Linked DNA regions of Homo sapiens. The protein of the gene in region 1 purifies or fractionates together with the protein of each later gene. This does not show direct contact. Each region holds a gene or a part of one and is shown on either strand. Other genes may lie near its edges.

What was found.
Region 2: the proteins of OSTC (region 1) and KAT6A purify together in Homo sapiens (affinity purification with mass spectrometry, with the first as the bait; one large-scale study listed by BioGRID). This does not show direct contact.

What each region holds. Positions count from the first base shown.
Region 1 is NC_000004.12:108,653,519-108,657,341, forward strand, and holds part of OSTC (oligosaccharyltransferase complex subunit OSTC), read left to right. Parts: intron 1-2,045; coding exon 2,046-2,139; intron 2,140-3,823. UniProt on the Homo sapiens protein: Subunit of STT3A-containing oligosaccharyl transferase (OST-A) complex that catalyzes the initial transfer of a defined glycan (Glc(3)Man(9)GlcNAc(2) in eukaryotes) from the lipid carrier dolichol-pyrophosphate to an asparagine residue within an Asn-X-Ser/Thr consensus motif in nascent polypeptide chains, the first step in protein N-glycosylation.
Region 2 is NC_000008.11:41,936,704-41,940,526, forward strand, and holds part of KAT6A (histone acetyltransferase KAT6A), read right to left. Parts: intron 866-3,823; coding exon 553-865; intron 1-552. UniProt on the Homo sapiens protein: Histone acetyltransferase that acetylates lysine residues in histone H3 and histone H4 (in vitro). Component of the MOZ/MORF complex which has a histone H3 acetyltransferase activity. May act as a transcriptional coactivator for RUNX1 and RUNX2.

The DNA.
Region 1 (3,823 bases):
GTTGGAAGTAGATTCAGTAGGTCTTGAATTCACTGGGTGTAGGGGAAGAATGAAGTGGGAAGGAATCTTACAGGTTTCTGGTTTGAGCTCCTGAATAGATGGAAGTATCATTTCCTGAGATTGAGAAAACAAAGTTTTTGGTGGAAAATGGTGCACCAGAGGTTGTTTTGGGGTAAAATTAGTTGGATATGTCACATGTGCAGATGGGAGTCTAGACCTGAGAAAAGAGGCCTGTGTTGAAGTTGGTCAACTAACAGACATTTCTGGAACTCCCATGAGACATTGAAGAGTATAGGCAAAGTCCAAAGTCTCTGTTCTTGAGGAGCTTACATGTAATTCTAATGGTACTGGCATTATTTGAGAGGCCTTGGCACATCACATTGAGAGTCTTTAGCACATGAAATTGAAAGCCCTGGGAGTTCATTTTGGAGAAAAGTAGAAGAGGACAGTGGACCAATCCCTGAGGGCCTCCAACATTTAGTTCTTTTATAAAAGAAGAGGCCCAATAGAGAGGTAGCAAGAAAACATGAAGAGGAGTATCACAAAAGCCATAAGAAGAGGTGTTTTTCAAGAAATTGGTTTAGTAAACTGGATTGAGTGCTTCTGAGAAGTCCCCTAAGATGAGAACTGAAAAGTGTCTATTGAATTTGACAACATGGAGATCATTGGTGACCTTAGAAAGAGCAGTATCAATGGTTGCAGAAGCCAGATTGGATTGAGTTGAAGAATGAAGGGTAAGTAAGAAAGGGGAGATGGCAAGTTTGCCTAAGTCTTCCAGAAGAAAGTCTGACTCCCTTTCAGAAAGCAAAGATAGAAATAGGATGTTAGCTAAGAGGATCTGAAGTCAAGGAGGGTTGATGTAGGGAAGGAGAGCTTGAAAATACAGGAGAGAGGAGAGATATCCAAAGGAATAAAGTCCCTGAGAGTCCAAGTGGGAATGGACTCCTGGTAATTGCAAAAGGGATCCCACATTATAGGAGGTGGGAATCTTCCTCTTTGTAGCTGGAAAGAAGGAGGTGAGGATGGATGCAGGTACCAGGTATTTGTAGATTTGGTGGGGAAAAGACAAGGGAATTCCTATAGGATTGTTTTGTCAGGCTAGGATAAGGGAGATAGGCTTGTTATGCTTAAGAAAAGCTGGAGATGAAGATGTTTGAGAACAGTGGAGAAGGTAGAGTAGATGTTGACAGTGGGAGATTGAGAAAACTATTAGTGCTGATGAACATTAATGTTAATGATCACGATGACATTATGACATAATGGTGGACATTAATGTTAATGATTATGAATCTCTAGTATTGCCATTCTGCCTGATGGCGTGGTTTTAAAATGTCTCCTTGTTTTACATTTAAGCAATTTCTCTAGTTATTTTTCAATTTATAGAAACAAATCTAAGCATATCTGAGACAATTTTTGTGAACCGAAGTAGAGCCTTTAGTTTTAAATCCCCTTTATACTAAAGTCATTCCTGAGTATTAGCAACTCTTATTGGATGAATTTCCTTTATGAAATTTGTACTTCATTTAGATATCATACAGTTTTCAAAGTAATTCTAAAACATTGAGTTGAATGTCTGAATGATTTATCAGAACTTTAGATGAGTTGGGCCACATTTGGTTATAATAATACAATCAAAGCATTCCTATTTAAAAGTAAATGAAACTTGGCCGGGTGCAGTGGCTCACACCTGTAATCCCAGCACTTTGGGAGACTGAGGCAGGTGGATCACCTGAGGTCAGGAGTTCGAGACCAGCCTGACCAATATGGTGAAATCCCGTCTCTACTAAAAATACAAAAATTAGCTGGGCATGGTGGTGGGCGCCTGTAGTCCCAGCTACTTGGGAGGCTGAGGCAGGAGAATTGCTTCAACTTGGGTGGCGGAGTTTGGCAGTAAGCCAAGTGGCGCCACTGCACTCTCAACCTGGGCGACAGAGTGAGACTCTGTCTCAAAAAAAGTAAATGAACCTTAAGAGACAATGAAAACTATAATCCTGTTTTCAAAAATTAGTAATACAATCTAATCTGTTCTGTTGTCTTTCTTATAGGAATAATTTATGATGTTATTGTTGAACCTCCAAGTGTCGGTTCTATGACTGATGAACATGGGCATCAGAGGCCAGTAGCTTTCTTGGCCTACAGGTAAAAGATACCTTTTTGAATGATTTGGTGGTGGGAAAGAAGGTTGCTGTGGTATGCCCACTTATTTAAAAATAGAGTAAAACCTATGGGATCCATGTGTATTTAGACAACAGCTGTTTTAAAATGCTGGATTCTGAAATGGCAGAAAGTGAGTCAAAAACAAGAGTATATTATTTATTTATTAAGAAATAAAGTATTTCATAATGATGTATCACCAATTTACAGTAGGGTGTCAGTTTAAACTACATTTATAGATTGTTCTGGGGGTCAGTGAACTATAGCTGCTTTTTTTTTCTTTTCCCCAAAAAAGTTTTATTGGAAGTAAGTATGCCCATGTGTTTTATATGATCTATGGCTGCTTTTAAGCTAGAGTGGCTGAGCTGAATAAGTATGACACAAACCATATACCCCACAAGCCTAAGATATTTACTATATGGGTATTTAAGAAAATATTTTTGGACTATACCCTGGTCTATACCATTAAATAACAAAAGTATTTTTGAGACTTTGAGGGTTCTGTTTCATCAGTGAAACCCCGTTCCAGTGTGGTTTTGTTCACCTGAACAATGCTTATATTGCTTTCTAAAATTTACTTAATATCTACCAAAACATAGCTATATGTTTATATTTGCAGTAATGCTATTTATGCATAGAATATTTCTGGAAAGATTTATTAGTATTCTCTGTGGAGGGGAGTTAATGACAGGTTGATGGTAGGGTGGCTCTTCATAGTGCCCTCTTTCACACTGTTTGAATTTTGAACTTGGTACATATATTGTGTTTTCAATGAAAACAATTGACCAAAAAAAAAAAAAAATACCCTGTTTACATATGCCTATGTATAATCATCCCTTTAACGAGAAATTTTCTTCTTGAGGTCCTTGAACTATGAGAATTTGATAAAAGCTCTGTATCCCTAGAAAAATCACACACACACACACTTTTACATATAATTAGAGGGGTTTGTAGTTCACTGAAGTTCTTATGGGACCCATGGAGCCTTATTTAAGAACAGTTTCTTTTTAAAATATTTCCATTTGAAACAAGAAGTTTATTATTATTAACATAAAACTTCAAGAAACACATCTAACCAATTCAAAATTAGTTTGAATTGATAGTAGAAATTTAAATAGCATAACTTTTTAAAAAAAGCTAACCTAGACCGGGCGCAGTGGCTCACGCCTGTAATCCCAGCACTTTGGGAGGCCGAGATGGGCGGATCACGAGGTCAGGAGATTGGGACTATCCTGGCTAACCCGGTGAAACCCTGTCTCCCCTAAAAATACAAAAAATTAGCCAGGCGTGGTGGCACGCGCCTGTAGTCCCAGCGATCTGGGAGGTGGAGGTTGCAGTGAGCCGAGATCGTGCCACAGCACTCCAGCCTGGGCGACAGCAAGACTCAATCTCAAAAAAAAAAAAAAGCTAAGCTAAAGTTCTGGGTAAAGCGTTCGTATACATAAAATATGAGTATTTATTTTACATAAACAGTTGTGTTAGTTGAGGTTTTACGACATTTTTTGAATGTGAACTCCATGAAGACAAAGATTTTTGTCTGTTTTATTCATTGTTGTATATCCCCCAGAACCTAAAACAGTGCTTGCTACCTAATAGACTCAATAAATATCTGTTGAATGGACAGATGAATATCCAGAGGTATAGTAAAATAGTTGTAAGGCTAAGAATA
Region 2 (3,823 bases), on another chromosome or scaffold:
TTACTACTAGTTGGGTAAGACACATTAGAGATACAATTCAGGAAAGACTCCTGAACAGATGTGACACAAGTTCCAATTTACATGAATCTGCTCTTTCTGGAGAATTGTCTTCTTAGCATTCACTCATTTAACACTACTTACTGAGCGCCGGGCTTAAGCACTCAGCATACAGCAATGAGCAAAACAGACTAAGTCTAGAGAATGCACATTCTAGTGAAGGGTTATTACATCTTCCTGATGCTAAGTCCAACTCTCCCATTAACTAAAGATTCTGATAAAGGCTTAGAAAGGATTGGGCAAAAAAGAACAGTTGCCTAATAGTAAGATATTTTCTGCAGAGGCAAATTAATAGAGGTTCTGAGTTGAAGGGAAAACACATTTAAAAATCAAGATGGATATACTTGATACAACTTTTTAGAGATTGCCAAACGTTCCTTTTCTTGCTTAGTGGGTTGTGTTCATTTTTCAGCCTTTTTACTGAAGGGTCTGTCACTGCTACTGCTATATATCTGAAGACAATAAACCACAGTAAGTGAGTTCTGTAAAACATACCATCAGCATCATCTGACTCTTCATCTTCTTCTTCATCTTTAGACTTCCTCTTAGAAGAGGACTGACACCTGAGTACATCCTGCGAAGACAAACGACGGAAGTATTCTCTAGGGAAAAGTTCATTTTCATCCTCTTCCTCCTCTTCTTCATCGATCTCAAACGTGGGTTCTAATCTTGGCATTGGCCTCTCGGAGTCAGAATCTTCAAAAGGTTCATCTAACACTTCAGTGGTCTCAGAAATAGTTTCTGTGACTACACTGCTATTGTGGTGTTTGCGCTTTCGGACTCTCCTCCTTCGGTGGAGAAATGGTTTCTGTTTAATAGAGAAAGCAAGTATTTACAGTTATGAACACTATCTTTTCTATTAATAATACGAAAACAGTTTTAAAACCAAATAGAATTAGCACATATAAAATGAGGATGTTGTTTGCCAAAAAATATTTTGAATATTATTTCAAAATACTATAGTAAGATAATACACTTATTATAAATACAAAGGTATTAGGCAATTGAACACAACTTTGTAAAAGAATAGGCAGCCATCTCCAAATAGCAGACATTATAATTCTCTTAATAGTTCAGTTAAATTTAGCACCCTAGAGAGTTGCCCTGTTTTAATACTGAACTGACCCAGAGGCTAATCCCTTAACTTTTCCAACTTAAGAGCAAAAGAGAAATAAAAACACTTTGTCTTATAGCACTACTGTGAAGGTTTGCAGAACTATCAGTAAAGTTGTATGCCATTTTCATGAACTACTCATAAAAAGCTGTGGAATGTAGAAATATGGGGCTGAAATGTATTTACTCAGTGTTAGTGAAATATTTCAAAAGTAAAATAAATCTGTTACTGAAATTTGGGCACACTGAGCACAACTTTGCACTGGACTGACCAAATAGCTAAAATTATACAACTAATATCACAAAATAAGAGATGATGCCCCAGAGATTATCTAATCCAATCCCTTCATTCTATAGATGTCAGAGAGGGTATAGGACTTGCTTAAGTTCACACATCCAGTCAAAGCATTTATTCATTAACTTCAAAATTACTTTGCATGTGAGCTTACTGCCTGTTCTTTTTCTTTTTTTAACATGATTTGTTTTACTTCATAAATTGGCAATACAAGTGCTAGGATGACAAAGATCTATTCTTCATGATCATGCAATGAACAGCAGTTAGTCAATGTTCAATTTTTCTCTACTTCAAACTTAATAGTCCCAATCGAGAATGTAATTTTCAAATTAGATTAAAAATGGCCCTGGTCCTTGGAGAAAAGGCTGATTCTAGGACAAGGGCATGAAATATACAAGATGAACTTGAAGCATCTTGTAGTGCCAGAAAGGAAATGCTTAAAAACAAACAAAAAGACCCCACAATGACAACAACAGTATATATGTTAAACACAGGAGGCCAGGCGCGGTGGCTCACACCTGTAATCCCAGCACCTTGGAGGCCAAGGCAGGTGGACCGCCCAAGCTCAGGAGTTCAAGACCAGCCTGAGCAACATAGCGAAACCCTGTCTCTATCAAAAGTACAAAAAATTAGCCAGGCGTGATGGAACATGCCTGTAGTCCAAGTTATTCAAGAGGCTGAGGTGGGAGCGTTGCTTGCATCCCAGGAGGTGGAGGTTGCAGTGAGCTGAGATCATGCCGCTGCACTCCAGCCTAGGTGACAGAGTAAGACCCCATCTGGGGAAGGAAAAAAAAAAAAAAAAAAAAAAAGCAGCAGCAGCCCAAGAGGGAAACTAAAAGAAGGAGCTTCTAATGGTCAAAACTGGAACAATCTGAGCAACAAATTTTAAAAAGCAGTAGTATTGGATTATAAAGTGAAGTATCACGTAAATATCTGGGCCAATAATGATATAAATAAATGCTTGGATAAATAAACAGATGAGGGAGAAAGGACAAATCTCCCAAGCAGAAATTCAAATAATTTATGCTGAGCCTCCACTCTGAGGGGGTAGAAATCTTAAGTGTGGCTATGCACAGTGACTTCCTTCCAGTAAAGGGAAAAGAAAAGTAGAAACCTGACAAACAATATCTTAAGCCAGGTCATCAAAGTTAACTTCAATAGGGAAAAATCAAATTGATAATACCCTTATATTTGATACTTGCTTCTTTTTATTTTTACAGACGGAGTCTTGCTATGTCACGCAGGTTGGACTACAGTGGCTATTTACAGGTACAATCATTGTGCACTACAGCCTCCAGCTCAAGTGATCCTCCCGCCTCAGCCTCCCAAGTAGCTAGGATTACAAGAGTGACCACTATGCCCAGCTTCCCTATACATACTGATAGATATATGCCAACAGGTACCCTTTAATTATGTGATGAGAATGGCACTTTACCTCTATGGTCTTCCTCTCAAGAATATATTACCCCATTCTAATATCATGAGGGATCATCTACAAAATACCTGACCAGTCATTCTCAAAACTATGAAGGCCATCGAAACTAAGGAAATTCTGAGAAACTACCACAGCCAAGAGGAACCTAAAGACACATGACTACTAAATGTAATGCGATATGCTGGGTGGGATCCTGGAACAGAAAAAGGACGTTAGGGAAAACTATGGAAATCTGAATAAAGTATGAACTCTAGTTACTGATGTATCTACACTGGTTCAGTAACTGTGATAGATGTACCACACCAACGCAAGGGATTAATAATAGAGGAAACTGGCTGGGGTATGCGAGAACTCTCTGTACTTTCTTTGCATTAATTCTGTAAATGTAAAACTGCTCTGAAGATATTATTCTTAAAACAAAACAAAACAAAACAAAAGATCCTGTCTTGCTTTTTAAGACCCTGTAAGGAAAGGAACGATTGTGCTGCTTTGGCTGGAAGCTGGCTGAGTGGCTCTTCCAGGGAGCAGCCTCGCTTCAGTCTGGCTGCCTCCTGGCAATGCTTAAAATCCACTCCATAGCCTGGGATGTTTCTGGTAAACGGCTTAACAGAATTCATTATCATCATTGTACATTATTTAATAACTAATTGGCTATCATTATGATGGAATATAGTTTAGAAAATATTTTTAAAGCAAGAGAGACCACGTTAAACCACTGGAGGGATGTGTGAGAAGTGGGGAGAGTAGAGAGAAAACAATAGCACCCAAGATGAGCTACTGTACTCTGAGTACCCCAAAATATAGGGCAGCACTATGTTCACTTTCCAATTAATTATGTAATATTTTGGCCTCCTTTTCTAATATAAACACTTCTAATCTGTACATACTTTAAAAATATCTTTTAAAGATATTTTAGGGCTTTA